Linked DNA regions of Homo sapiens: region 1 is linked to region 2. Evidence: fine-mapped expression QTL. A gene starts in region 2. The other region holds a variant in brackets. All regions are shown on one strand. Distances are from middle to middle.

Region 1 (13,743 bases), 600 kb after region 2:
TGCCTCCCGGGTTCACGCCATTCTCCTGCCTCAGCCTCCCGAGTAGCTGGGACTACAGGCGCCTGCCATCACGCCCAGCTAATTTTTTGTATTTTTAGTAGAGATGGGGTTTCACCGTGTTAGCCAGGATGGTCTCAATCTCCTGACCTCACGATCCGCCCGCCTTGGCCTCCCAAAGTGCTGGGATTACAGGCATGAGCCATCGTGCCCGGCCTAAAACCTTTAAAATGTTGCTTTTTATATTAGTGCTTTTATTCATGTAGTAGTGATTTTAATGAGTGATACAATTATACCTTTTTCCCTATGGACAATGAGTTGTTCCAGCATCATTTATTATTTTCTACATGTGAGTTTTATACAATTTGGGGGGTTTCTTTTTTTTTTGAGAAAGGGTCATTGGGTCTTTGTTGCCCTGGTTAGAGTACAGTGGCAATTGTAGCTCATTGCAGCTTCAACCTCCTGGGCTTAAGCGATTCTTTCACCTCAGCCTCTCTTGTAGCTGGTACTACAGGTACAAGCCACCATGTGCAGCTAATCTTTTAATCTTTTTGTAGAGATGGGGTCTCACTGTGTTGCCCAGGCTGGTCTCGAACTCCTGGGCTCAAGCAATTCTCCTGTCTTGGCCTCCCAAAGTGCTGGGATTAGAGGTGTCAGCCACGGTGCCTGGCTTAGTTTTATACATAAAACTATAATTTTCTTTTTTTTTAAATTTTTTTTGAGACAGAGTCTTGCTTTGTCACTCAGGCTGGAGTGCAGTGGTGAGATCTCGGCTCACTGCAAGCTCCGCCTCCCGGGTTCATGCCATTCTGCTGCCTCAGCCTCCCGAGTTGCTGGGACTACAGACGCCCGCTACCACGCCCGGCTAATTTTTTGTATTTTTAGTAGAGACGGGTTTCACCATGTTAGCCAGGATGGTCTTGATCTCCTGACCTCATGATCCGTCCGCCTTGGCCTCCCAAAGTGCTGGGATTACAGGCGTGAGCCACCGCACACGGCCATAAGACCATAATTTTCATAAGATTTATTCCCAGATATTCTTAGGTATCTCAGAGTTTTTATTGTGTCTTTTAAAAAATAGACATTCTTCTGTTTATTGCAGGAATACAGAAATGCATTGATTTTTGTATATTGTTTTTATAGCCAGCCATGGTGCTAAACTCTGATTATTTCCAGCAATTCATTTGTAGGTTCTTACAAGTTTCCTGTGAAGACAGACATATCATTTGTGAATAATAATTTTTGTGTCATTCTCTTCACTCCTGCCTTTTAATTTCATTTTGTTAATTTATTGTAGTTATTAGGATCTCTCATACAATATTAAATAGAAGTAGTGATGGTGAACATCATTGTCATGTTCCTGATTTTGAATCTAGTTTTCCCTTTTCTTCTTTTTACTGTCTTTTGAGACAGAGTCGCATTCTGTCACCTAGGTTGGAGTGCAGTGGCGCGATCTCAGCTCACTGCAACCTCCATCTCCCGGGTTCAAGCAATTCTCCTGCTGCAGCCTCCCAAGTAGCTGGGACTACAGGTGTGCACCACCACATCCAGCTAAATTTTTTTGTATTTTTAGTAGAGACAGGGTTTCACCATGTTGGCCAGGCTGGTCTCGAACTCCTGACTTTGTGGTCTGCCCGGCTTGGCCTCCCAAAGTGCTGGGATTACAGATGTGAGCCACCACACCTGGCCTATCTGGTGGATCTTATATAAGATGGGAATGGGCCAGGCTTGGTGGCTTACGCCTGTAATCCCAGCACTTTGGGAGGCTGAGGCGGGTGGATCATGGGGTCAAGAGACGGAGACCATCTTGGCTAACACGGTGAAACCCCGTCTCTACTAAAAATACAAAAAATTAGCCAGGCATGGTGGCACATGCCTGTAGTCCCAGCTACTCGGGAAGCTGAGACAGGAGAATTGCTTGTTCACCCAGGAGGCAGAGGTTGCAGTGAGCCGAGATCGCGTCACTGCACTCCAGCCTGGGTGACAGAGTGAGACTCTGTCTCACAATAAATAAATAAATAAATAAATAAATAAGATGGGAATCATCTTTCCTTGCAAGCTGGTAAAACTTGTCTGTAAATTCATCTTGCCATATTTTTTTTCATTATGGGATTATTTTAAACAACTTCTTCAATTTCTTTAATAGTTAAAGAAAAGTCAGGGTAAAATTCTTGAATCAATTGTGGAGTTACGTGTTTTTAACTATTTTATGTAAGTTTTCTAATTATTTGCATAAAGTTGTTCATAGTATACTCTTTTATTTTGGAGAGACAGGGTCTTGCTGTGTTGCCTAGGCTGGAGTGTGGTGGCACAATGGGAGCTCACAGCAGCCTCAAACCTCAAGTGATCCTCCCACTTCAGCCTCCCGAGTAGCTAGGACTATAGGTGTGCACCACCACACCTGGCTAGTTTTTAAGTTTATTGTAAAGAAAAGGTCTTGCTATGTTGCCCAGGCTGATATTGAACTCCTGTGCTCAAGTGATCCTCCTGCCTTGGCCTCCCAAAATACTGGGATTACAGTTGTGAGGCACTTCACTCAGCTGTTTTTGTTATCTTTTTAATGACAACTGTCCTAGTGGGTATGAAGTGGTATCTCATTGTGGCTTTGATTTGCATTTCTCTGATGGCTAATGATGCTGAACATATTTTCTTTTTTTTTTTTTTTTTTTTGAGACGGAGTCTCGCTCTGTCACCCAGGCTGGAGTGCAGTGGTGCGATCTTGGCTCACTGCAAGCTCTGCCTCCCGGGTTCACGCCATTCTCCTGCCTCAGCCTCTCCGAGTAGCTGGGACTACAGGCGCCCGCCACCACACCCAGCTAATTTTTTGTATTTTTAGTAGAGACGGGGTTTCACTGTGTTAGCCAGGATGGTCTCGATCTCCTGACCTCGTGATTCACCCGCTTTGGCCTCCCAAAGTGCTGGGATTACAAGCGTGAGCCACCGCGCCCGGCCCGATGCTGAGCATATTTTCATGTGCTTATTTCTTTTGGAGAAATGTCTGTTTGGATCCTTTGCCCATTTAAAAAATTGGATTATTTGTCTTTTTACTATTGAGGAAGAGTTCTCTATATATTCTAGATAAAAGTCCCTAATCATATATATGCGTATATATATATATGGTTTGCAATATTTTCTCCCATTCTTTTTTTTTTTTTTTTAGTCTTGCTCTGTCACCCAGGCTGGAGTGCAGTGGCATGATCTCAGCTCACTGTAACCTCTGCCTCCTGGGTTCAAGCGATTTTCCTGCCTCAGCCTCCCAAGTAGCTAGGATGACAGGCGTGCGCCACCACACCCGGCTAATTTTTTGTATTTTTAGTAGAGATGGGGTTTTGCCATGTTTCCCAGGTGGTCTTGAACTCCTGACCTTGTGATCCACCCACCTCGGCCTCCCAAAGTTTTTCTCTCATTCTTTAGGTTGTCTTTTCACTTTCTTCGATGGTGTCCCTTGATGTACAAAAGTTTTAAATTTTGATGAAGTCCCATTTATCTATTTTTTTGGTTGGCTGTGCTTTTGAACCAATGTCAAATCCCAAGATTACACTCCAAATTGAGCTGCCTTCAACTTAGCCAGTTAAGCTGCTGATCCTCACAGTTTGCCCTACCCTGCAGAACATCCATGTGGACCAAGCTGAGGGGCCTGGGATGAAAACGGCCCTAGGCAAGAACATTATCAAGCATACAAAATGCTCTGCAAATTATCCCAGCACTTTGGGAGGCTGAGGCGGGCAGATTGCTTGAGGTCAGGAGTTTGAGAACAGCCTGACCAGCATGGCGAAACCCTGTCTCTACCAAAAAATACAAAAATTAGCAGGGCGTGGTGGCGGGCACCTGTCATCCCAACTATCTGGGAGGCTGAGGCACAAGAATCGCTTGAACCTGTGAGGTGGAGGTTGTAGTGAGCCAAGATCACGCCACTGCACTCCAGCCTAGGTGACAGAGCGAGACTCTGTCTCAAAAAAAAAAATCCTTCGCAAATTATCTCATGCCTTTGGATAATTTCCAGAGCATTGAAATGGTTGTTGGATTTTTCTTTTTCTTTTGCGGGGGGAAGGAGTCTCGCTCTGTCTCCCAGGCTGGAGTGTAATGGCATGATCTCAGCTCACTGCAACCCCTGCCTCCTGGGTTCAAGCGATTCTCCCGCCTTAGCCTTCTGAGTAGCTGGGATTACAGGCACCCAACATCATGCCCGGCTAATTTTTTTATTTTTGTAGAGAGGGGGTTTCACCATGTTGGCCAGGCTGGTCTCGAACTCCTGACCTCAGGTGATCCGCCCACCTCGGCCTCCCAAAGTGCTGGGATTACAGGCGTGAACCACTGCACCCGGCCTGTTGGATCATTTTTGTCCAGCTTCATAGTTGCCTTGTGAAGAGAGGATTTGTCCACCACCTCATTCAGCCAGAGCCAAATCCTGCTTCTGTCATTCCTCCCTCCTAACATTGCTGTCACGCTGTTCATTCCTTGTCTCACTGCACCTCTAGTTTACAAATTCTCTAGCCTTTTGGCTCTGTTTACTCTGCTCTGTAACCCTGTACCAGTAACATAAGCAATATACATGTAAATAAGTGGATTTATGTTGCATTTCTTTTTCAAGAATGCTATTTTTCATCTCTAGTAATTCCATTTTCTGTGTGATAATTTTCCAAACCTGCATGGTTATTCCTGATTGTCCTTTGTTGCATGCACATCCTGAACTTCTTCAAATGTTTTATACGTATCTATGCAGTGTTCTCTACCTGACAGTTCCACTATCTGTTGTGTGTTGTGTCTGCTGACTCCATTCTTGGTGACCTGCCCTCTAGCGTGTTTTATGACCTTTATTTATGAGCTGATAGCTGGATTTTAATCTGTGGGACTCTTGCAGGCCTTAGTAGAAGAAGACTTCTTCCAGCGAGAATTTGCTTTTATTTTTTGTTTTGTTTTGTTTTGTTTTGAGATGAAGTCTCGCTCTGTCGCCTAGGCTGGAGTGCAATGATGCGATCTCAGCTCACTGCAACCTCCTCCTTCCGGGTTCAAGCAATTCTCGTGCTTCAGCCTCCCCAGTAGCTGGGATTACAGGCACGCGCCACCACGCCTGGCTAATTTTTGTAGTTTTAGTAGAGATGAGGTTTCACCATGTTGGCCAGGCTGGTCTCGAACTCCTGACCTCAGGTGATCCACTTGCCTCGGTCTCCCAAAGTGTTGGGATTACAGGCGTGAGCCACCGCGCCTGGCCGAGAATTTGCTTTTACTTCTCCCAGTAGCCAGAGAACACCACCCACCAGAAGCTGCTTCGGTCCTCCTGAAGAAAGGTAGCACTGCTGTGTGGTACTGAGCTTGGGGCCTGTGGTGAGGTGAGGGAGCAGAGCCCAAGGCCCTGGCTTCACATCACAGGGCCCAGGCTCAGTAGCCACAGAGCAGAGCTGCCCTCCCTCCCTCCGCCTTTCTGGCTTCAGTTCTCTCTCTTTTTTTTTTTTTTTTTGGAGACTGAGTTTTGCTCTTGTTACCCAGGCTGGAGTGCAATGGCGTGATTTGGCTCACTGCAATCTCCGCCTCCCAGGTTCAAGTGATTCTCCTGCCTCAGCCCCCCACGTAGCTGGGACTGAAAGCACTGGGATTACAGGCGTGAGCCACTGGGAGTGCTGGGATTACAGGTGTGAGCCACTGCACCCAGTCCAGTCCTCTCTTTTGTAGACCTCCTTTACCTCTTTTAAGTCCAATGGTGCCTCAAAATTGTGTCCTCAGCAGGATATAATTGCTTCCTAGTGGGAGCACCCTACAGAGCACCTAATCAGCCATACTGTAAGAATGTAAGAAGTCAAAGTTAACATTTACTGAGCTTTGACCATCTGGCTGCCAAACAGTCTTCTAAGCACCTCGCATGTATTAAGTCACTCAGACCTCACAACCACCCTACAAGGTGTGTGTTAGTTGTCCATGTTTTATGAATGAGGACATTGAGGCATAGATCACTTAGCAAGTTCTCATACAACTAGCAAGGAGTGGAGCTGAAATTCAGAGCCTGGTGTCTGGCTGTGGGATCCATGCCCCCAACCACTGTCAGATTTGTGGATTTGTATACGTATCTGCGTGTGATTATATGTAGGAGTTAACATCAGCACTTGTGCACATGCCAGAGTGGCTGTTTTTCTATGGATCTGAATGTCACTGTGTGTAACTGCCTTCAAGTGATGCTGATGTCACCTTAGTGTGCCCTTCTCTGGCCACCCCATTTAAAATGGTTCCTTCCTCTGCCTAGTGTTTTTTTGTTTTGTTTTTTTGAGACGGAGTTTAACTCTTGTCGCCCAGGCTGGAGTCCAGTGGCGCGATCTTGGCTCACTGTAACCTCTGCCCTCCCAGGTTCAAGCGATTTTCCTGCCTCAGCCTCCGGAGTAGCTGGGATTACAGGCGCACGCCACCATGCCTGGCTAATTTTTGTATTTTTAGTAGAGACGGGGTTTCACCATGTTGACCAGGCTGGTCCTGAACTCCTGACCTCAAGTGATCTGCCTACCTTGGACTCTCAAAGTGCCGGGATTACAGGTGTGGGCCACCGCGCCTAGCCCCTTCTGCCTAGTCTTGTCAGTCACGCTTAATAACTCTCTAACACACTATGTATTTTACTCCTTGTATTTATATCTGCTTCCCCAATAGAACACAAGTTCAGTCTGGCTGCTGTGGGAAGAACACACTCTAGGTGGGATGGGTACAGCCAAATCCCAGGTTGGAGGCTGTTGGAATGTCCAGGTGAAGGTGGTGGTGACTTGATCTAGAGCACTTAGTGGTGGAGGTGGTGACAAGTGATTGACTTCAGGAAATATTTGGACAGTAGTGTGGACAGGATTTGCTGATGGTTTGGATGTGTCTCATAAGGAAATAAAAGGAGTCATTTGTCATCCAAACAAGTGGGTAAATGAGCCAGATGGGGACTGTGGGGAAAGGGGTAGGTTCAAGGGGCATGGGTTTGGGAAGCAAGAGATTGGTTTGGGATATGTTAAGAGTGTGATGCCCATCAGCTCTCCAAGTGTAAATATTGAGAGGGAAGTCAGATATGAGTCTGGAGTCAGAGAGGAAGGAGCTAGAGATGAAAATTTGGGAGTCATTGACTTATTGATGAAAATTAAACCCATAAGACTGGGTGAGATCTCTTAGAGAGTAAATGAGAGAGAATATAAAGAATTCTGAGAGTGGGCTGGGCGCGATGGCTCACACCTGTAATGCCAGCACTTTGGGAGGCCTGAGGCAGGCTGGGTCACTTGAGGTCAGGAGTTCGAGACCAGCCTGGCCAACATGGTGAAACCCCGTCTCTACTAAAAATACAAAAATTGGCCGGGCGCAGTGGCTCACACCTGTAATCCCAGCACTTTGGGAGGCCAAGGCAGGTGGATCACGAGATCAGGAGATGAGACCATCATGGCTAACACGGTGAAACCCCATCTCTACTAAAAATACAAAAAGAAATTAGCCGGGTGTGGTGGAGGGCACCTGTAGTCTCAGCTATTCGGGAGGCTGAGGCAGAAGAATGGCGTGAACCAGGGAGGCAGAGCTTGCAGTGAGCCGAGATCGCACCACTGGGCGACAGAAGCAAGACTCCATCTCAAATAATAATAATAATAATAATAATAATAATAATAATAATAATACAAAAATTAGCCGGGTGCAGTGGCGCATAGTCAAACAAGATTAACCTCCTGCCCATAGTCCCCTGCACACAGCACAAGACAGGGCTAGCGACTGTCAGATGGATGAGTGCTCCACTCCTCTCTTCCCAGCTCCTATTAAGGAACCAAAAAAGTTGATGCCCAAAACATCCCTCCCCACAGTCAAGAAGCTAGCAACAGCCACCACTGGGCCCAGCAAAGCCAAGTAAGGAGCAGGATGGGGTTGGGGGAAGGAGGAGGGTAGGAGGCAACGCCCCTCCCTGTGCCCCACCCTGAGGGCCTGATGAAGATATGTTCCAGGACATCTCGGACACCCAGCAGGGACAGTCAGAAGCTCACCTCCCGAGACTCAGGCAAGGGCTGCCTTCCTCCAGTGCGGGGAGGACTGGAGGACAGGGATGGGGTGGCTGTGCGGAGGGACAGAGGTGGGAAGAGACTGAGGGTCAGAGTAGGCTTGGGTCCCTGAGGTTCTGCTCTCTTAGGCCCCAATGGTGGCTTCCAAAGTGGGGGTTCGTATCACCCTGGCCGAAAGCGATCCAAAACCCAGACTCCCCAGCAACGCTCTGTGTCCAGTCAGGTGAGGGGCGGGAGACATGGGAGAGTGGGGATGCTGGGCAGAGGCTGGTTCCCAGCTGTGGTGTGCACGGGTGAAGTCTCCCAGGCCAAGGGGAACCAGACTCAACCTCAGCTGAGACTTCACCTCCCATCACGGCAGGAGGAAGAGCACAGCAGCCCGGTAAAGGCCCCCTCTGTGAAGAGAACCCCCATGCCGGACAAGACTGCCACCCCAGAGAGGCCCCCAGCTCCAGAGAACGCCCCCAGCTCCAAGAAGATCCCGGCTCCTGACAAAGTCCCCTCCCCAGAGAAGACCCTCACTCTAGGGGACAAGGCCTCTATCCCAGGGAACTCCACCTCGGGGAAGATCCCAGCTCCTGACAAAGTCCCCACCCCAGAGAAGATGGTGACTCCGGAGGACAAGGCTTCTATCCCAGAGAACTCCATCATCCCAGAGGAGACCCTGACTGTGGACAAACCCTCCACTCCAGAGAGGGTCTTTTCAGTGGAAGAGTCCCCTGCCCTAGAAGCCCCACCTATGGATAAAGTCCCTAATCCAAAGATGGCCCCTCTGGGGGATGAGGCCCCCACTCTAGAAAAGGTCTTGACCCCAGAGCTTTCTGAAGAAGAGGTGTCCACCAGAGATGACATTCAATTCCATCACTTCTCTTCGGAGGAAGCCCTGCAGAAGGTCAAGTACTTTGTAGCCAAAGAGGATCCATCATCCCAGGAGGAGGCCCACACGCCAGAGGCACCCCCACCCCAGCCTCCTTCCTCAGAGAGGTGCCTGGGAGAGATGAAATGTACCCTAGTTAGAGGGGACAGCTCCCCACGCCAGGCTGAGTTGAAGTCTGGGCCAGCATCCAGGCCTGCCCTTGAGAAGCCCCACCCCCACGAAGAGGCTACAACCCTTCCAGAGGAGGCACCTTCCAATGACGAGAGGACCCCTGAAGAGGAGGCGCCCCCCAACGAGCAGAGGCCTCTGAGAGAGGAGGTGCTCCCCAAAGAGGGAGTGGCTTCCAAAGAGGAGGTGACCCTGAAAGAGGAATTGCCCCCTAAAGAGGAAGTGGCTCCAAAAGAGGAGGTGCCCCCCATAGAAAGAGCCTTTGCCCAAAAAACACGTCCTATCAAGCCGCCTCCAGACTCCCAAGAGACGCTCGCGCTCCCCTCGCTGGTCCCGCAAAACTACACGGAAAACAAGAATGAAGGAGTTGATGTAACGTCGCTGAGGGGCGAGGTGGAGTCTCTAAGGAGGGCGCTGGAGCTGATGGAGGTGCAGCTGGAGTGAGTGGGCAGTGGCGGGGGTTGTGGAAGGTAGGGTTCCCCCTAGCCCTCACCTGCGCAGCCCCTCACCTCCAGCCCTCACCTGCCCAGCCCCTCACCTCCGCCTCGGCCCGCAGGAGGAAGCTGACCGACATCTGGGAGGAGCTGAAGAGCGAGAAGGAGCAGCGCCGGCGGCTGGAGGTGAGGCGCGGGTCCCGGCGGGAGGGGGCTGACGGCGAGTGGCCCCCTGACAAAGTCTCCACCTCACTCCCGACCAGGTCCAGGTGATGCAGGGGACCCAGAAGTCCCAGACCCCGCGCGTCATCCACACGCAGACGCAGACCTACTGAGGGTGGGCCTGGGAAGGGACCGCGGCCTGACCTGGCTGGGGCCACCCACGTCCTTGCACACGACTTTGGGAAACGCGAGAAAGTAAACTCTGCCTAGCACGGCGCCACGCCGGTCTGGTCGCTGGGGGCGGGGCCTGCGCGGGGGCAGGGCCTGGGCCTCCGCATTCCTGACGGTCCCTCCCAGGCACATCTGGCCAACATGTGGCTCCCATTACCGTTCCCAAGGCCTGCGCGCGGCTATTTTTATCCACCGGATGGTGAGGGGCGGGGGAGGGTGTCTCCTTCGGACTCCAGCCGCGC[A/C]CTGGAGAAATGGCGGGCAGGAGGGGCCCAGGCGGGGTCGGGCTCTTGACGCCCGGCCTAGATTCCGGAATCCAGCTGTGCGCCGGGGAGGAGCCGGGCGGGCCTTCTCGCCAGCTCGGACCCCTCCCAGCTGGCCTCCCTGTCCGCTCAGAGGGACTCCTGCCCTCTCGCTTGAACGCACCTCGGCGCAGACGTGAAGTCCACCGTCCAGCCCAAGCACGCATGCTTACACCGGGGCTAGCAGCACCTTAGCCTCGAGGTCAGGGTCCTGAGGCCTGGTGTGTGTGTCATTGCAGTGTATGAACCCAGGGCACTGTGGGGACAGGGCGACGTGTGTCCAGGCGTTTGCCGGTAAGGAATGCGTTTTGAATAAGGAATGCGCGCGCGCTTGCTCTGTGTGTGAGGCTGGGTGCAGGCCTGTGGGCTTCTGCTTTTCTGCTGGCTGTGAAGTGAATGCGGGCAGGTGTGCTGTATCGTCGGGTTGGTGGGTGGGGGTGGTGCAGCTAGGGTAAGGGAGTCAAGCTGGGCCTCAGTCCTGGGGCCCCTGCGTGGCAGGAGCCTGGGGGTCGCTGGGGGCAGGAGTAACAGAGGGAGAGACTGAGTCACTGAGAATGCAGCTTTCTTTCATTTGGTCACTTCACCTCTTCATCGACCCCAGAGAGGGAGTGGGGACCCTGCATGCTGCCCCCTCCCCGCCCCCGGGGTCTTCTGGCAGGACTGGGGAAGGGAGCCTCTCAGGGGGTGGCGGTCCACGCCCAGTAGCACCTGGGAGCTGTGGGGGCCGAGGCAGTCCGAAGGTGTGGGGTAGCTCTGAGCTCATGTGCAGGTCCGGTACCCCGAGCGCCTTGCAGCGGGAGCCGGGGCCCATCAGTAATAGTGCATGCGGCCCAGGGTGCCCGTGGCCGTGGGGCTGGGCCCCAGCGTGCCTGTGCCCAGCAGGTCCGGCTGCCCGGTGCGCCAGATCTCCCGCAGGATCCGTTCGCGCTCCTCCAGCCGCTGCGCCCGCTCCAGCTCCTCCGCCGACGTGAAGACGTTGACGTTGAGGGGCCCGTCCGGCTCTGCGGACAGCTCGGGGCCCGGCAGCGTGTCGTCGGGGCCCAGCCGAGTCACCGTGTCCTCCTCGTCCTCGTCGTCGTCCTCGGGCTCCAGGGTGCTGCTGCGGGGGTCCCGGCGCTGAGCCGGGCCCCGGGGCCGCGGGCGGGGCGCCCACGAGATGCTGATGACGAGCAGGCAGAGGGTGAGCAGCAGGCCGAAGCAGACGCCCAGCACGAAGTAGAGGCCGAAGCTCTCGGGGTTGGCTGCGGGGCACAGGGCGGGGGTCACGGAGAGGCCCGGACGGGTGGGGGTTGTCCCACTTCCGAAAGACCCCAGGTTCTAGGTGTGGGGGCGAGGCCTGTAACCCCTACTCGAAGGGCATTAGGGAACCGCCAGCGGGCAAGAGGGCGGGGAGCGGGGCGGAGGGGACGGACAAGGCGCTGGGGAGGGAAGGGGATGGTGGTCAGGGAAGGGTTCAGGCCCCCAGTCTTCCGGCGCCCGCCCTCACCGCGGATGTGCGCGTAGGCAGCCAGGCTGTTGCTGAGCAACTCCATGTCCCTTCGCGGGGCATCCATGCTGCTCTGGGGGGCAGCTCCCCTACCAGCCTGCGAGGTCAGCAAAGTCAGATCCTTCTCCCAGCCTGGAGCCCACCCCGACCCCTTCCGCGGGCAGCTCCTCTCCCGGGAGCCGCGGGCCCAGGTTCCACCCTGGAGAGAGCGCTTCCCTAACTTCGTGGCGGCCCGGGGCCCTGTCGGGGGGAACCCCTCTCCCGGGCGCGGACGCCCCTCCAGTCCTGGGAGCAGCGCCGGGGACCGCGGGAGGCCCCGCCCCCTGGTGAGGTCCCCAGCTGAGGCCCGGTTCCGCCGTCCCGGGGCGGGATGGAGGATAGGGACGCTGAGCCTCCACGCCCCAGGCGGGCTCCGGGAAGGGAAGCTGCCTCTCTCCTCGCCCGGCCGCCCCGCGGGGACCCACCGGCCCGGGGCCAGGCCCACTCACCGTCAGCGCCCCGCTTCCCGGCTGCCCGGCCCCAGCGCGTCCCGCGGCCGCATACACTGGGTCCGGCCGCCCCCGCCCGCTCGGGTCCCGCCGCCCCTCCGGCCCCGCTGGGCTCCCAGGCCGCGGCAGCACGGGCGGGACACGGACCGAGGGACCAGCCGGCGGAAAGTTTCCTCCGAGGAAAGAGGAGGGACGGGGCGGGGCGGGGCGGGCGGGGAGGCGGGGAGGAAAAGGGCTGGGAGAGGAAGGGGAGAGGAGCGGGCAGCCGGGAGGAGGGAGAGCCCGGCCCGCGGGCCGTCCGTCCCCCACAGGAAACCGCCGGGGAGGCCGCGGCAGGGACCCGCCCCCAGGCCACTAACAGCAACAACAGAGAGGCTGGAGCTCTGCCTGCGTGCGGGCCAAGGGCTAAACCTTGGACAGGTTCTTTCACTTACTCCGCCTGACAACCCTGCGACGTGATACCATTATCCCCACTTCGCAGATCAAATAAACGGAGTCTTGGAGAGATTGAATTGACTTTACCAAAACCGTCAGGATTTGAATCTGCTGCTCTCTGATCCTAAAGCCTGAGCTAGAAACCACCGCTCCCCCTCCTAGGAGGCCCCTTCCAGGCAAAGCTGCTTCTCTTCCCCAGACCCATGCTGGACTGGAAGGGAGGGGACTGTCCACCCCTCCTTCCAGGGCCCAGGCTTGAATGTGTCCCCTGGCCGAGCTCTGGTCTAGTCACGCAGGGTTAATGATTGTTGGACTCCAGCTTTGAGCCAGGGCCCGGCCAGCAGTCTCGCAGACCCCAGCGTGGGGCCTCTGTGCCTGCGAGCTCCTGCGCTCTTGTGCACCAAGCAGCTTGTGGCGGCTTGTGGCAGATCCCACCCCATCCCGTCCCCCACCCCAAGGCTAAACCTGCCTGTGCTCACACACGCATTTCCCACCTGGGCTTGTGCATGCAATGTGGTGTGTGATCAGTGTGTGTGGCGGGGGGCTTCCTTCTGCCCTGTCTCCACGGGGCCCCCCCATCATGGACCTCCCCTCCCTTGCTGGAGCTAGAATGAGGGGGAGGCCGCCTTGGCGGGAGCCTTAGAGAGGAGGAGGAAAGGGGGAGAGGAAATTGCAGACATAGCTGAAGGCGCTGCCTGAGGCCTGTGGGCCAGCGACCCTCTCCCTGTCCGGGCTGCAGACCCCTACTCCCCCAGTCCCGAGACTGGGTTCAAGTAGAGGGCAGATCTAGATGGGGGAGGACTAGGACTGACTCCTATGGGGATGGAAAAGGGACTCCTGGGTGTCTTTGTGACTGTTTAGTGTGTTCTGTGAATGTGCGGGCAGGTATTTTTGCCCACATCTGTATATTTGTCTATTAATGTGATGTATTTGAGTATTGTTGTGGGGGCGGGTATGTCTGTATATAAATCTGTGCAGCCACTAGTCAACAAATACTGTGTATGCCTAGCACTTCCTAGTCTAGTCCACAGCATCTGTGGGTTTAACCAACTTTGCATCAAAAATATTCAAAACCAAAATTGCATCTGTGCTGAACATGTACAGACTTTTTTTCTTATCATTATTTCCTAAACAATAGATATATTTAATTTTTTTTCTTTGAGACAGGGTCTCAC
Region 2 (14,869 bases):
ACCAAGTGCATGAACCTTTCCTACTCCCCTCACTGTCCCACGGACTAAGGAATTCCTACCCCAATGACTTTTTTTTTTTTTTTTTTTTTTGAGACAGTCTCACTCTGTCACCCAGGCTGGAGTGCAGCGGCACGATCTTGGCTCACTGCAACCTCCACCTCCCAGATTCAAGCAATTCTCCTGCCTCAGCCTCCCGAGTAGCTGGGATTACAGGCATGTACTATCATGCCCAGCTGATTTTTATATTTTTCATAGAGACAGGGTCTCACCATGTTGGCCAAGCTGGTCTCGAACTCCTGACCTCAAATGATCCACCCGCCACAGCCTCCCAAAATGCTGGGATTATAGGCATGAGCCACCGCACCTGGCCCAATGACTTTAAGACAACAACCACGTATAGAAGTCCCTGACTGAAAACTAGACAGACAGCCAGTCCTGCATTCCCCTCTCCTAGGTTACGAGTGGCTTGTGCATTAGGCTTTTGGGGTCTTTTTGTTGGGGAGGGGGTTGAGACAGGGTCTTGCTCTCTCACCCAGGCTTCAGTGCAGTGGTGGGATCATAGCTCACTGCAGCTTCAAATTCCTGGGCTGAAGTGATCCTCCAGCCTCAGGCTCCTGAGTGGCTAGGACCACAGGCATGTACCACCATGACTGACTAATTTTTTTTCCCTTTTTGTAGGGATGGAGTCTTAAACTCTTGGCTCAAGCCATCCTACTGCCTCAACCTCCCAAAGTGTTGGGATTACAAACATGAGCCACTGTGCCCAGCCTGCATTAGGCTTTTGGATGCAAGTCTCATCTACCTGTGCACACCACAGCTCTCAAAGACAAGAGCAGGCTCCTCAGGGCCTCATGCAGGGGAGGCACACAATCTTCTTAATCCATACAGAGCATCTTCACGTCCATTTCCTCATTCAGCCCTTATAGTTGCCACAGGTGAGGAAACTGAGTATAGAGAGTGTAGCTCAGATCTGCCTATGGGAGGTACTGTGGTCACCTTAGCACTTCCCATGATTAGGCCTCGTGGCCAGTGGACCTGATGGAGAACCACAATTCTTGGCTGAGTTGGTTCAGCCACTGGAGTCCTGCCTCCGTTTCCCTGCCCCTAACTCTGCCGTCCTGGGCTGTGGCTCTATTCTTGCCAATCTCCTTCCCAAACCCATCATCCCCCGGGGAGTCCCTGACCTTCAGTGACTGGCAGGGGTCCTGTAAACATACAATTCACCACACATTCCCTTGGTCTCACCTTCTTCTTTTTCTCAGCTCAAAGAGTTCTTTTCTGGAAAGGAATATTAGGCAGCTTTATTTTTTAGAAGTCCCCTTCCCCTTTAAAGATGACATTCAAATTTTAGATTCAGCCAGGTGCGATGGCTCACACCTGTAATCCCAGCAGGTGGGGAGGCTGAGGCGGATCACTTGAGGCCAGGAATTAGAGACCAGCCTGGCCAACATGGTAAAACCCCATCTTTACCAAACATACAAAAAAATTAGCCAGGCGTGGTGGTGCATACCTGTAATCCCAGCTACTCGGGAGGCTGAGGCATGAGAATTGCTCAAACCCAGGAGGCGGAGGTTGCAGTGAGCCAAGATCACACCACTACACTCCAGCCTGGGCGACAGAGCCAGACCCTGTCTCAAAAAAAAAAAAAATTTTTTTAGATTCCAATTTCATAAGAAAAAATGTTTTTCTATGAAAAAGCTGTATGTACCAAAAAAGTATGATTTATAATAATCATAATTCATTAATGTAACTTACTATGTGTCAGGTACAATTCTAAGTCTTCTATATATTACATATTTAATCCTTGCAGCAACCCTGCGAAGTAGTTATTACTATTATTCCCATTTTAAGATGAGGAAACTAAAGCACAGAAAAGTTAATTGACTTGCCCAAGGTCACAAAAACATAAAACAATGGGGACAAGGTCCAAATCCAGGGTGTCTGGCTTCAGGGTCTCTGTCCTTCACCAGGGGCTGTGTTCAAAAGAGCCCTCACACATTTAGAAAAGGGGCTCCTGGCCGGGCATGGTGGCTCATGTCTGTAATCCCAGCACTTTGGGAGGCTGAGGTGGGCCGATTGCCCGAGCTCAGGAGTTTGAGACCAGCCTGGGCAACATGGCAAAAACCCATCTCTACTAAAAATACAAAAAATTAGCCAAGCGTGGTGGCATGTGCCTGTAGTCCCAGCTGCTTGGGAGGCTGAGGTAGGAGAATGGCTTGAACCCAGGAGGTGGAGGTTGCAGTGAGCCAAGATCACACCACTGCACTCCAGCCTGGGCAACAGAGTGAGACTGTCTCCAAAAAAAAAGGCTCCTTATAAAAATTCACCCTCTTATGCTCTGAAGGTTTGACAGACATCTTATTGTCAGAAATCTCCATTCAAATTTAGCCTTAGCCCTTTGCCAAAACATCTCTTAGTAAGTGGAATTTGTAAAAATTGGTTCAATACTATTTCTGTTTAAGTGTCAAGTGTGGAGATGACAAGAATTATTAACTGTTTCAGTGAGAAGTATACTTTGTGAAGTTTAAAATAAATATGTTGCCAGGCACAGTGGCTCCCAGCACTTTGGGAGGCCGAGGCGGGCAGATCACGAGGTCAGGATATTGAGACCACAGTGAAACCCTGTCTCTACTAAAAATACAAAAAATTAGCTGGGCGCGGTGGCGGGCGCCTGTAGTCCCACCTACTCGTGAGGCTTAGGCAGGAGAATGGTGTGAACCCGGAAGGCGGAGCTTGCAGTGAGCCGAGATCGCGCCACTGCACTCCAGCTTGGGCAACACAGTGAGACTCCGTCTCAAAAAAATAATAATAATAAAATAAAATAAAATAAAATAAAAATGTTGGCCAGGCGCAGTGGCTCACACCTGTAATCCCAGCACTTTGGGAGGCTCAGGTGGGAGGATGGCTTGAAGCCAGGAGTTTGAGACCAGCCTGGGCAATATAGCAAGAAGCCATCACTACAAAAAACTTAAGAATTAGCTGGGTGTGGTGGTGTGTGCCTGTAGTCCCAGCTACTCAGAGGCTAAGGTGGGAGGATCACTTGAGCCCAGAAGTTCAAGGGTACAGTGAGCTATGATTGCACCACTATGCTCTAGCTTGGGCGTATCTTGGAGACGCTGTCTCCAAAAATAAAGAATCAAATCAAATAAAAATAAAATACAGTATTTCAGATTTGTGAATTTTGGTATCCCTGGGGATCCTGGAACCAATCCCCTCAGATAACAAAGGATGACTGTATATTATAACTACATGTGTGTCAAAACCATCTAAGGACCCGAAATCATAGTCATAGTCAGAGCGCCCTTCAGGGAAGTGATGACACCAGGGTACTTGGTGTTTTATTTTTTGTTTTATTTGGTTTTTTGAGATGGAGTTTCCCTCTTGTTGCCCGGACTGGAATGCAGTGGCACGATCTCTGCCCACTGCAACCTCTGCCTCCCAGGTTCAAGCGACTCTCCTGCCTCAGCCTACTGAGTAGCTGGGATTACAGGCACCCGTCCCCACGTCTGGCTAATTTTTGTATTTTTAGTAGAGACAGGCACCATGTTGGCCAGGCTGGTCTTGAACTCCTGACCTCAGGTGATCCACCCATCTCAGCCTCCCAAAGTGCTAGGATTACAGGTGTGAGCCACCGTGCCCTGCCCAGGGTACAGTTGAGTATGTACGAGTGTGTATGGTATGTGTCCCTCGCAATTCATTTAGGCCCAAAGGTGACACAGGACAAGGACAATCCCATATGGGGCTCTCAGGGTAGAAGTCAAGTCTCCCCTGTCACACTGGATGGCCCCTGAGAGACTTCTCCACCCCATTGGATCGCCAGGCACAGCAGTCTAAATTCTTCAGTGTCTTTCCCCAAAACCACCTCCCTAGCTCCTAGTCCAGGACCCTACTCAAAAGGGGAGCTCAGATGGTATGAAAAAGAGGCCATCAGACAACAGGTAGAAGAAAAACACATACTCAAGAAATGTAATTTTCTGCCCCAGTTTATTCATCTTGGGTTGGTCCAGAAGCCGGGTTTATACACTCAATATGCAAGAGCTACAGACAAAAAGTCTTCAGGGCCCACCCCTCACCCCCACTCTCTGGATCTTTCACCCATCCACCTGTCAGGGATGAAACTCTTTAGAGATAGGAAGAGCCCCCCACTTTGCCGATAGGGAGACTGAGGGCCAGAGGCTGCATCAGTGACTTCCATGCCACTGTTCACCCACCAGTGTCCCCTCTTCATACCACTGCTCACCCACCAGGATCTTGCATTCTCTTGGCTCCCAAGAACAAAGCAGAGAGCTAAGCTACCTTAGTCGTTGGTTCTCTCCAAGACTCACCCACTCTGTAACTCGCGGAGCCTGCCAATCCCTGTTTGAAGGGCCATGCAGTGAAAGAAGGGGTTAAAATTCAGCATCCTAAGCATCTCCAGAGGCTTAGGCTGACACTGTCCCCTTCACATCCCAGAAAGCCAACCTCTGGCTCCTCCTGACAGTCCGACTTCAGAGAAATGAACCAAACCAATTCAACATCCAATGCTGCTAAAGCCAGAGAGGCACAGCAAGGTAGAGGCAGAGACAGGGAAGCGATATTTTCCTCATCGGCCTTGGAACATCTTGTCTGTTACTTGCAAGCTTATAAACATACATTGCTTTTCATCAGAAGCTTAAATGAACACGGTTTGCAACAGCTCCTTTTCCAATGGAGAGATGGTTTGTTTGGGAACTGGTATTTTAGAATTCCCATTCTCCTATTCTTCACAGGGTTCCACTGTTATCATCTTTCCTGTCCCCATCTCCCATGTGCCCAAAGGCAGAGTTCAAGAGGGACAGTCCCCTATGTCCTCTGTCCCCATCCCCACCATCATCTTCATCACTACTCCTGGTTCCCTTTCCTGATACCAGTTCTCCACACACTGCCAAAATTGCAGCCAAAATTCCATGGCAGGCCAGAGCAGCCACTAAACCTCCTACAAGTAAAGCCAACATCAGGGACAATAGCCTCAGCTGAGCAAGTCTGGGTTAAGTGAGGGAAAGGGAAAGGAGAGGTGGCCTGGGAAATCCCAGGAGAATGGGTCAGCCACAACCTTCAGATAAATGACAGCATGCTAGCCCTCTGTCTCCAGGGAACAGTGGGACCCAGTGGAGAAGAAAGGCTGGGGTAGGCCATGAGGAACACAAGGTGTGGGTGGACACCCACAGTGCAGCTGGATATGTATTTGCACACACCTGCTCATGAGTCTGCCTACAAACACACATGCTCCTAACATACACCTCCCATGCCTGTGGCCAAACATGTGCACCCCTGCACACACAAGGGCTTCCTCACATACACCTAATACAAGCCTGCACACTCAAACTCACTCATAGACACACACATCTTCTGCCTATACATCCTCACTCATGCGCATATACACACACTGCTGGGTACCTGTCTACACATGCACATACCGAGTTCCTCATTCTTACATACTACACACACACACATATGTTCACTCTTACATGCTCACATATAGGTCTGCAGATAAATTAGCTGTGTGTACACATGTGCACACAGCACACTTAAGCTCATTTATACATGCTTATTCACACATGCCTACACACACCAGCCTACATGTTAGCACATACACACTCATGCCTACCTGCAATCATGCCAGCAAATTATGTACTTACTAGTGCGCCTCACACATGCCTGCAAATATATACATATACCCTTGCACACTTGTGGAGGCACACCCTTAGGCCTGGTCCTGGGGCCTGGATGGTGCTGCCCTCTGCTGGAGACAGCGAATAAGCTCCTTCCGGTTGTCTAGGATGGTGTCGAAGCTCTCCTGCAGTCGGGCCTGCTGGTCAATCAACTGATGCTGCAGGCCCCGGATCCACTGGAGCAGTGCCAGGCGACGGTACATCACCAAGTGCACGTGGTGCTTTTCCTTCTCCTGCTCTTTGTAGCGCTCCTGGACTTGTAAGTGCTGCACAGCCTGGGCCACTGAGGGCAGAAGGGGATCGGGAGGGCCAGGGCCTCGCGGGGTCCCACAGGCAGGCTCAGGACTGCTGCTACGGCTGTCAATGCTCAGGGAACTGCTGGCATAGCCGTTGTCCTCCAGAGGGGAGCAGACTGTGCCAGCACCACCCATCTTCTCAGGCTCAGCCCCGGGAATCTCTGCCCCCTCTGGGGGGCTGCGCACCCCTTCCTCAGGGGATCCAGGGGCCTGGAAGGCTTGGTTGTCAGAGGGTGACTCAGAGGAGCTCCTCCTCAGGATAGGTTCCACTCTGCCTGGCATCCCATGCCAATTCTCGTTAGCATCCTTGGCACTTGCCATGAAGTTGGAGTTGCTGTCTGGTTGGAGCTCGGGCTGACATAATCCAGGAGGTGGGTCCCCCAGGAATTGGCCCCCCTCAGCTAGCCCTGGCTGGATGGCGAACATCTAGCCTGTAAAGGGAAAGCAGGAGACCGAGTCACAGTAGGACAGGGTGGGGTGCCTGAAGTCAGGGCAACTTAGCTGCAGGGACAAGGCTGCAAGCAAGAGCCTGGCCACTCCCTGTCAAGCCCTTTCTCTTGACTCTGGTAACACTTCCCTTCGTGGTTTTCGTCCTCCCTGTCTACCTGTTCATTCTCAGTCTCCTGCAAAGGGTTTTTCCTCCGTCCTCAGAGCCAGGCTGTCTTCTGATTTTGTGCATTTCTCTCCAGAGGACCTCATTCTCTGCTGTAGCTTCAAAGACCATCATATGCTGGTGACTCTCAGATCTGTCTTCAGCCCAGATCCAACTGCTATCCAACCCTGCAACCAACCATAGTCTCCTCAAATTCTACATAACCAGTCCAGGCATGGTGGCTCATACCTGTAATCCCAGCACTTTGGGAGGCCGAGGCAGGCAGATCACCTGAGGTCAGGAGTTCGAGACTAGACTGGCCAACATGGTGAAACCCCATCTCTACTAAAAATACAAAAATTAGCCAGGCATGGTGACAGGCACCTGTAATCCCAGCTATTTGGGAGGCTGAGGCAGGGGAATCACTTGAACCCAGGAGGCAGAGGTTTCAGTGAGCCGAGATTGCGCCACTGCACTCCAGCCTGGGTGACAGAGTGACATCATCCCCCTCCACCACCGCCCCCCGCCAAAATTCTACATAACCAAACAAGCTCTCCTTCAGTATCCTCAGCAAGATGGCTCTGTACTCCATCCAGAAAGCTGAGAGCATCCTGGGGTCCTCACTATCCTTCCTTCTCCCATCTCATTAATAACCACATTCTGACCATTCTTCCTCTTCCAGGCCATTTCTGACCTGGATTATTGCCTCGGCCTTTTCACTGATCTCTCTGCCTCCAGTTAAAAATGTAAATTTCACTTGTCACCACTCCTAATGCCCTCCCTGAATTCCTGCTAAACCTCTACCTGGCCTACAACACCCTGTTTGATCTGGCCCCTGCTCACCCCTCCATACCTGCCTCTTGCCACTCTGCCCCTCCCATCATAGCAAACTGCCCAGAGATCTCAAAACACACCATTGTTTTTCTTACAGTATTCCTTTGGCCTACAATATCCTTCCTCTCCCCTCCCCTCAAAGCTCCTCCCTTCTCCACCCAGCAAATTCCTTTTTGTACTTCAAAATTAGCTGTAATATCCCCATGTTTCCATGTCCCCATGTCTCTGAAGCCGTCTTGATACTGCCCCAATCAATATTACATAAACAAGCACGGTTAGTTATGCCTTCCTCTGGGTCCCCACTGCGCTGGGTATACACTGTCTTATCCAACTTTGCATCCGTCCCTGGCATACATGGTCGACGATCAGTGAATGTCTATTCAACTGGCATTTTTGGTTTGTGGTAATGATCTTGTAATAGCAGTTTGTAATCTGGCTTGGACCTCCTGTATATATCCTCCATCATATTCCCCAGAGTCAGCCAGCATAGAGCCCTGAACCAGGCTGTCTGTGCATACAGGTACTTGCTAAGTGAGTGAATGGGAGAAGAGACTGCAGTGAATTTCCATGCTCAGGAATCCACTCTTGACTCCCCAGGGCTGGAAGAGCTGGGTTCTGGAAGAGCTGGGTTTGGTTCCCTTTCCTACCCCAGCCAGGGAGCCCCGCCTTCCCCAGTGACAAGCTTTTCTTCTGAGCCTGCCCCCTTCCCTCCCAATGCCTCTGGAACACAGCCACTATCTTGCGGTCCCCGTCCCTAGCTTGCTCCATTCTGAGGCCCTGGAGGGAGGGCATACCACACCACTCTTCTCTCCTCCATAACCTGCTTCTAACCAAAATTAGGATTTGAACTGACAAAGGGATTCTACTGACCAAACAGCACTGGGATTAGAACAATTGAAGAGCATGAAGAGGAAGGGTATTGTAAGTGGAGCCGGCACTGGAAGGCGCTCCATAGGTGGCATGGACCCTCCCCACCCCCAGCAATGGGCAGAGAAGTCCTGGGGAGAAGGGTGTAGGAACAGTTCGTTTCTAATCGCCCTCTAAGCAAGGCTTGTGGGAAGGTGCCTAGAGATCTCCCCTCGCCCCAATTTTTTATTTTTCCTATACTTGGATGGGGCCGTGAAGGAAGCTGGGATGGGGTGGGGGTGGCGCTAGGGATCACAGGGTTCTCAGAGATAGTAAAATGAGAACCCCGACACGCCAGGACTAGGTCTCCGCCCAAACAGGAGGCAGCCTCCTTTTCTGGCCTTGCGGGAGTGGGAGACCACCCCAGGAGACAGAGACCATCCTTCCCTAGTCTCCTCGAAGGAGGCCACTGTGACTCCCCGCTTCCCGCGGCTGAGCCCCAAGCCCCACCCCGCCTCGGGCCCCAGACTCGGACTCACGGCGTAGAGGCGCCCGCTCCGGCGCGTCTGGCTCTGGCTCCGCCCGGCCCTGGTGGTGTCTAGTCCCTGGGCTGGGGGTTCCTCGGCCTGGGCGTCTCCGCGGTCCAGGCGTGGGTGCGGGGCTCCCGGGCAGCGCGCCCAGCCCCAGTCCCGGACTGCGGAGTCAGGCGGCGTCTGCGCAGCAGGGCGGAGCGACCGGTCCCACGTGGGCCGGTTCGGTTTTCCGCGGAGCCCCGCGCCAGGCCCCTGCGCCGGAACCGCTTCGCCCCCGCGCGGGGCCGCGTTGACCCAGGCCTTCCAGGTCCGGTGCTCTCTCCTATTGGCATTCGCTGGGCCCTTCCCATCAGTTAGCCTCGCTGCAGACACCGTGCCATTTTCAAGTGAAATCTGATTAGTCACCACCTTCCGGCGTTAAACTCCTCAATGGCTTCCCCACCGCCGGGACAACCCCTAAGGCGGTAGCCGCGGGGCTCTGTGCGTCCTGCCCTTCGTCTGCCTCTCCGGCTTCGTCCTCTACCCTCCCTCTCCGCAGTTACCCTCCCACACGCCCCTTTCCGCCACGCGGCTTTGGCACGCACTGTTCCCTCGGTCTAGCATTCTCTTCCCCCTCTCGACTTACTCCTATTTCAGATCTCTTCTCGGAGAGATCTCTGACTCCCTAGATCACGTTCGTTCCCCCCTTTATGTCAGAGCACATTCCTTTTCTTCATAGCATTTATCACAATTTGGAATTATATATTCCTTTTTGTGCTTACTTGACTAAAGTCACTGAGGCCGGGTGCGGTGGCTCACGCCTGTAACCCCAGCACTTTGGGAGGCCGAGGCGGGCAGATAACCTGAGGTCAGGAGTTTGAGACCAGCCTGGCCAACATGGTGAAACCCCATCTCTACTAAAAATACAAAAATTAGCCGGGCTTGGTGGCGGGCGCCTGTAATCCCAGCTACTTGGGAGGCTGAGGCAGGAGAATCGCTTGAACCTGGGAGGTGGAGGTTGCAGTGAGCCAAGACTGCACCACTGCACTCCAGTCTGGGCAACAGAGTGGGACTCCGTCTCAAAAAAAAAAAAAAAAAAAAAAAAAAAAAGAGAGAGAGAGAAAGAAGATCCAAGCCTGGGACAGGGCTCAGGGCTGATGTCCTGTACCCGGGACGGGGGCTCTCCGCAGGACACAGAGCCCACCCATGATGCCTGTGAAGTGGGTACCAGTGCTTTTGCCCAGGTGAGGAGGAACAGCGTGATAAAAAAGGGTCTTGGGTTCCAAACTCCAGTGGATTCTTCTCAGAGCTCCACTCTACTGAAGCTTGACCCCCCTCACTCTTTTGCACCCTGGGGAAATGTGAAGTTGGGGGCCCTGTTTGGAATAAAAGAGAACAGAGTTCAGTAATTGCTGACCCTAATATATGAGGTGCCCTCTTCCAGTTTCAATTTGATTCCAAGTCACCATTCTGCAACCTAGAGACTAATTGGCAAATTAAATCACACCAAGAAATCCTATATGCAAAAACAGGGAAAATGGAAAAGAAATTTTTATGATTATGATGACTATTTTAAAAGGGAAAAGGAAATAAGAAGGAGAAGGCAGAAGTAATTCAAACTTTGCACACTCCTCCAGCTAAGAAAATACAGGTGGAGACGTCAGCCCCATTTCTACATCAGATCCTGTGGCCTAAGTCTTCTCCCTTCCCTTATCCACTTCAGGTTCCCCTGGCCTTCAGCCTGGGGTGACCCAAATCCTCACTTTTTTTTTTTTTTTTTTTTTTTTTGAGATGGAGTCTCGCTCTGTCGCCTAGGCTGGAGTGCAGTGGCGCAATCTCGGCTCACCGCAACCTCCACCTCCCGGGTTCAAGCGATTCTCCTGCCTCAGCCTCCTGAGTAGCTGGGATTACAGGTGCATGCATCACGTCAGCTAATTTTTGTATTTTTAGTAGAGATGGGGTTTCACCATGTTGGTCAGGTTGGTCTTGATCTCCTGACCTTGTGATCCACCCACCTCGGCCTCCCAAAGTGCTGGGATTACAGGCGTGAGCCACCATGCCTGGCCCAAATCCTCACTCCTAAAGGCTCTCAGCTTTGGTGATCTAGGGTTATGCAGTTCTGCCCAGACCACAGAGCCATAAAGTCATCAATTGTTTGTTCTGCCCAGAATAGCCCTTCTCCGCCTCTCTTTGGACTCTGTCTCTCCCAGCTTAACCATGTGGGTCAAATGAAAGCCTGAAGAATCCAGGGATAGGAGCTCCACTCCAGGTGAGCCAGTCAGAGTCCTTCTCTGGGATCTTCTGAAACGAAATTAAAGGAAGACGAGGCAGGGAAGAAACAGAGATGAGAGATAGTTCTGATAATGTTGCAGACCCTGTTTCCTGCATCTAAACTTATAGTTTTGTATGCCTTATTTTGCCAAGCCTAACTTGAGTGGAATTTCTTTCACCGACAATTGAAAGAATGCTGATTACTACAATAGCACAAGGTGGTGACCCCAGGGTCTCTGGGTTCCATTCACGCACCTCTCAACACTTATTAGGTAACAGTAACTCCCTTTCTCCTTGGTAGCCATGATCAGTCCAGTCTACACTGAGACCACCCCCTTCTCCTATTCCTCTAGTGCTACCAGGAGCCGAAATCCCAGGGAATCATCTTTGTGTTTCTTGGTTAGAAGAAACATTCCTCCCATGATGCTATCACCATGTTTTGTTTTGTTTTTTTCCCAAGACAGAGTTTCACTGTCACCCAGGCTGGAGTGCAGTGGCGCGATCTCAGCTCACTGCAACCTCCGCCTCCCAGGTTCAAGTCATTCTCCTGCCTCAGCCTCCCGAGTAGCTGGGGTTACAGGCGCGTGCCACCACACCCGGCTAATTTTTGTATTTTTAGTAGAGACAGGGTTTCACCATGTTGGTCAGGCTGATTTCAAATTCCTGACCTCAAATGATCTGCCCGCCTTGACCTCCCAAAGTGCTGGGATTACAGGTGTGAGCCACTGTGCCTGGCCGATGCTATCACCTTCTGACCTGCAATACCCAGAATCTCAGAGACAGGAAGAAAACTCTTAGTCCTTAGGTAAATCATATAAGGTGCCACAACCACCGCTACCTCTTCTTGTTATGCATTCTGGCCACAAAGGACAAAGCATTATATACATTGATTTAAAGCCTATATTGGGCCTGGTGTGGTGGCTCACACCTGTAATCCCAGCACTTTGGGAGGCCGAGGCAGGCGGATCACTTGAGGCTGGGAATTCGAGACAAGCTTGGCCAACATGATGAAACCCCGTTTCTACTAAAAATACAAAAATTAGACAGGCATGGTGGTGCGCGTCTGTAATCCCAGCTATTCAGGAGGCTGAAGCAGGAGAATCGCTTGAACCCAAGAGGCAGAGATTGCAGTGAGCCAAGATCGTGCCACTGCACTCCAGCCTGGGCGATAGAGTAAGACCCTGTCTCAAAAAAAAAAAATTAAAATAAAATAAATAAAGCCTATATCGTGCTCTGCAGGGCAGCACCCCAGCCTGGAATAGCTGAGTCATCAATTCCATTGTTCTAAAAAGCTAGTTATTCCTTTTTTTTTTTTTTTTTTTGAGATGGAGTCTCTCTCTGTCACCCAGGCTAGAGTGCAGTGGCATAGTCTTGGCTCACTACAACCTCCACGTCCTGGGTTCAAGCAATTCTCCTGCCTCAACCTCCTGAGTAGCTGGGACTACAGGTGCCCGCCACCTGGTGAATGTTTGTATTTTTAGTAGAGGCAGGATTTCACCATGTTGACCAGGCTGGTCTCAAACTCCTGACATCAGGTGATCTGCCTGCCTTGGCCTCCCAAAGTGCTAGGATTTCAGGCGTGAGCCACCACACCTGGCCTAAAGCTAGTTATTCCTAAATAATACAATACCTGCTAAGTCAAGTGAATTCATTTAAAGGAAATCAGATTGTAGTCTCTCTCTTTCTTTTTTTTTTCCCTGAGACGGAGTCTTACTCTGTTGCCCAGGCTGGAGTACAGTGGTGCAATCTCCATTCATTGCAACGTCCGCCTCCCAGGATCAAGCGATTCTCATGCCTCAGCCTCCTGAGTAGCTGAGACTACAGGCGTGTGCCACTGCACCGGCTAATTTTTGTATTTCTAATAGAGACAGGGTTTCACTATGTTGCCCAGGCTGGTCTCAAATTCCTGGCCTCAAGTGATCTGCCCACCTCGGCCTCCCAAAGTGTTGGGATTACAGGCGTGAACCACCACACCCAGCCTGTAGCCAGTTTTGTTAATCAAGGGCAGTGTTGTATGGAATATTCTAGCACTGTATAATTAATACAGTCAGTGCTCACACAGCAGTCCTGGTCACTCCATAATTTTCAGAGCTCAAAACCTGAAGAAAAAAAAGCTCCAAATGCAGGGATGTCCATGTCCACAGGAAGACAAAAAAGCAGCTATAGAGATGCCTGTTATTCATTTGCCAGAGGCTTTTCCAGTGAGGACACCAGAGAATAATTCACCCCCAAGTGAAAGGGTATCTGTGGCTGGGTTCACCTACCCACATATATGCCAGGAACTTAAGTGGCAAGGACACAGAAACCTCCAGAGATGGCCAGTATCAGCCTGAACAGGGCTTTGCAAAAGGCCATGCCATCAAGACCCAATGATGGACAGCGGGTAAGCCTCTTGGCAAACAGATGTCAGAGCCAAGAGAGGCTAGCAGTGAGTAGCCAGATCCAGGTCCCAGGGCCTGGGGTGTCAGGCAAGGAGACCAGAGAAGATGAGAGGAATTTCTCATCCAGGAAATAGGACAGGCCTAAGGGTTATTCATAGGTGGATAATTTCTCAATATCAGTATTCTCAGGAAGAAAGGGGTGGGTAAGATCAAGGTGTTTCAGCTTCAAAGACCTTGTCCCTTCCCACCCATTCATTTACATGTATCATACAGTTACAGAGTGCTTACTTTGTGCCAGGTACTGTGTTGGGAATTCAGAGCAGAATCAGAACTGGTCGTGGTCTTGGGGAGCTCCTTGTTTAGAAAGGGAAACAGAAGTCATGGTGTGTTGGCTCATGCCTGTAATTCCAGCACTTTGGGAGGCCGAAGCGGACAGATCACTGGAGGCTAGGAGTTTGAGACCAGCCTGATCAACATGGTGAAACCCCGTCTCTACTAAAAATACAAAAATTAGCCGGGCATGGTGGCACACGCCTGTAATCCCAGCTACTTGGGAGGCTGAGGCACGAGAACTGCTTGAACTTGGGAGGCAGAGGTTGCAGTGAGCCAAGATCACACCACGGCACTCTAGCCTGGGTGACAGAGCCAGACCCTGTCTCAAAGAAAAGGAATAGACAGAAGAGTGGGCTATAACAATGTAATGGGCCCTGCAACAGAGCCAGGAGGCAAAAGTAGTAAGCCCAGAAAAGGGTAAGGAAAGGCTTCACAGAGGTGATTTTTTTTATTTTAAGAGATGGGAGTCTTGCTATGTTACCCAGGCTGGTCTCGAACTCCCAACCTTAAGTGATCCTCCCACCTTGGCCTCCCAACATTCTGGGATTACAGGCATGAGCCACTAAACCCAGCTAGCACAGAGGTGATATTTGAGCCAGGCCTTGAGGGATGAATAAGAGCTCACCAAGAGAAAGCAAGAGAAGGCATAGGAGACTGCATTTTCAGAGTGAGTTCAGGAAACACCCCGTAGGCCAGTGTGGCTGGAGCTCGGTGGGAAATGGAGGTAAGGTGAGGCTAGAAGATAAAGTTGGCCCAGTTGTGAAAGTTCTTGACACCATCCCAAGGAGCTTGGGCTCCATCCTGGGGACAGCAGGGAAGTAACTGAGGAAGCCCTCAGAGTTTCCATATCAGAACAAAGCACGATCCTGGATTACAAACTACGTTGCTAACCTGCTTTCTTCTCTCTTCCTGAGGTCACATCATCTGTCAACTTCCCCACATGGCTTTGGGAACTTAGGCAAATCAAATCATTTTAACCTTTTTGGGCTAAATAAAATAATATGCCTTAAAAATTGTTCAATAACATAGTGGTGAACATTGTCACTTGGGCTCCCAAGACCAGGCACAACCCCAGAGGACCTTTGACATGCCAAAGAGCCATTAAGGCAGATTG

What was found.
Region 1: its variant is fine-mapped to the expression of C1orf216 in whole blood (INTERVAL, PIP 0.95).

The regions. Positions count from the first base shown.
Region 1 is chr1:36,311,326-36,325,068 of GRCh38, forward strand. SH3D21 (SH3 domain containing 21) reads left to right here. Exons shown (of 16, transcript NM_001162530.2): 11 at 7,746-7,839; 12 at 7,935-7,987; 13 at 8,117-8,211; 14 at 8,350-9,473; 15 at 9,590-9,653; 16 at 9,731-10,022. The coding sequence ends at 9,802. EVA1B (eva-1 homolog B) reads right to left here and starts at 12,320. Exons shown (of 3, transcript NM_001304762.2): 1 at 12,134-12,320; 2 at 11,646-11,742; 3 at 10,705-11,400. The coding sequence starts at 11,712. The coding sequence ends at 10,970. RefSeq lists enhancers at 9,818-10,702, 11,589-12,473 and silencers at 11,518-11,707, 11,798-11,847, 11,908-12,267, 12,358-12,587. The variant A/C (reference allele first, on the strand shown) is at 10,103.
Region 2 is chr1:35,709,910-35,724,778 of GRCh38, forward strand. It overlaps C1orf216 (chromosome 1 open reading frame 216), which reads right to left and starts at 8,975. Exons shown (of 2, transcript NM_152374.2): 1 at 8,798-8,975; 2 at 3,968-6,417. The coding sequence starts at 6,412. The coding sequence ends at 5,723. It also overlaps a transcript of CLSPN not described here. RefSeq lists an enhancer at 5,599-5,893 and silencers at 8,707-9,136, 10,799-11,093.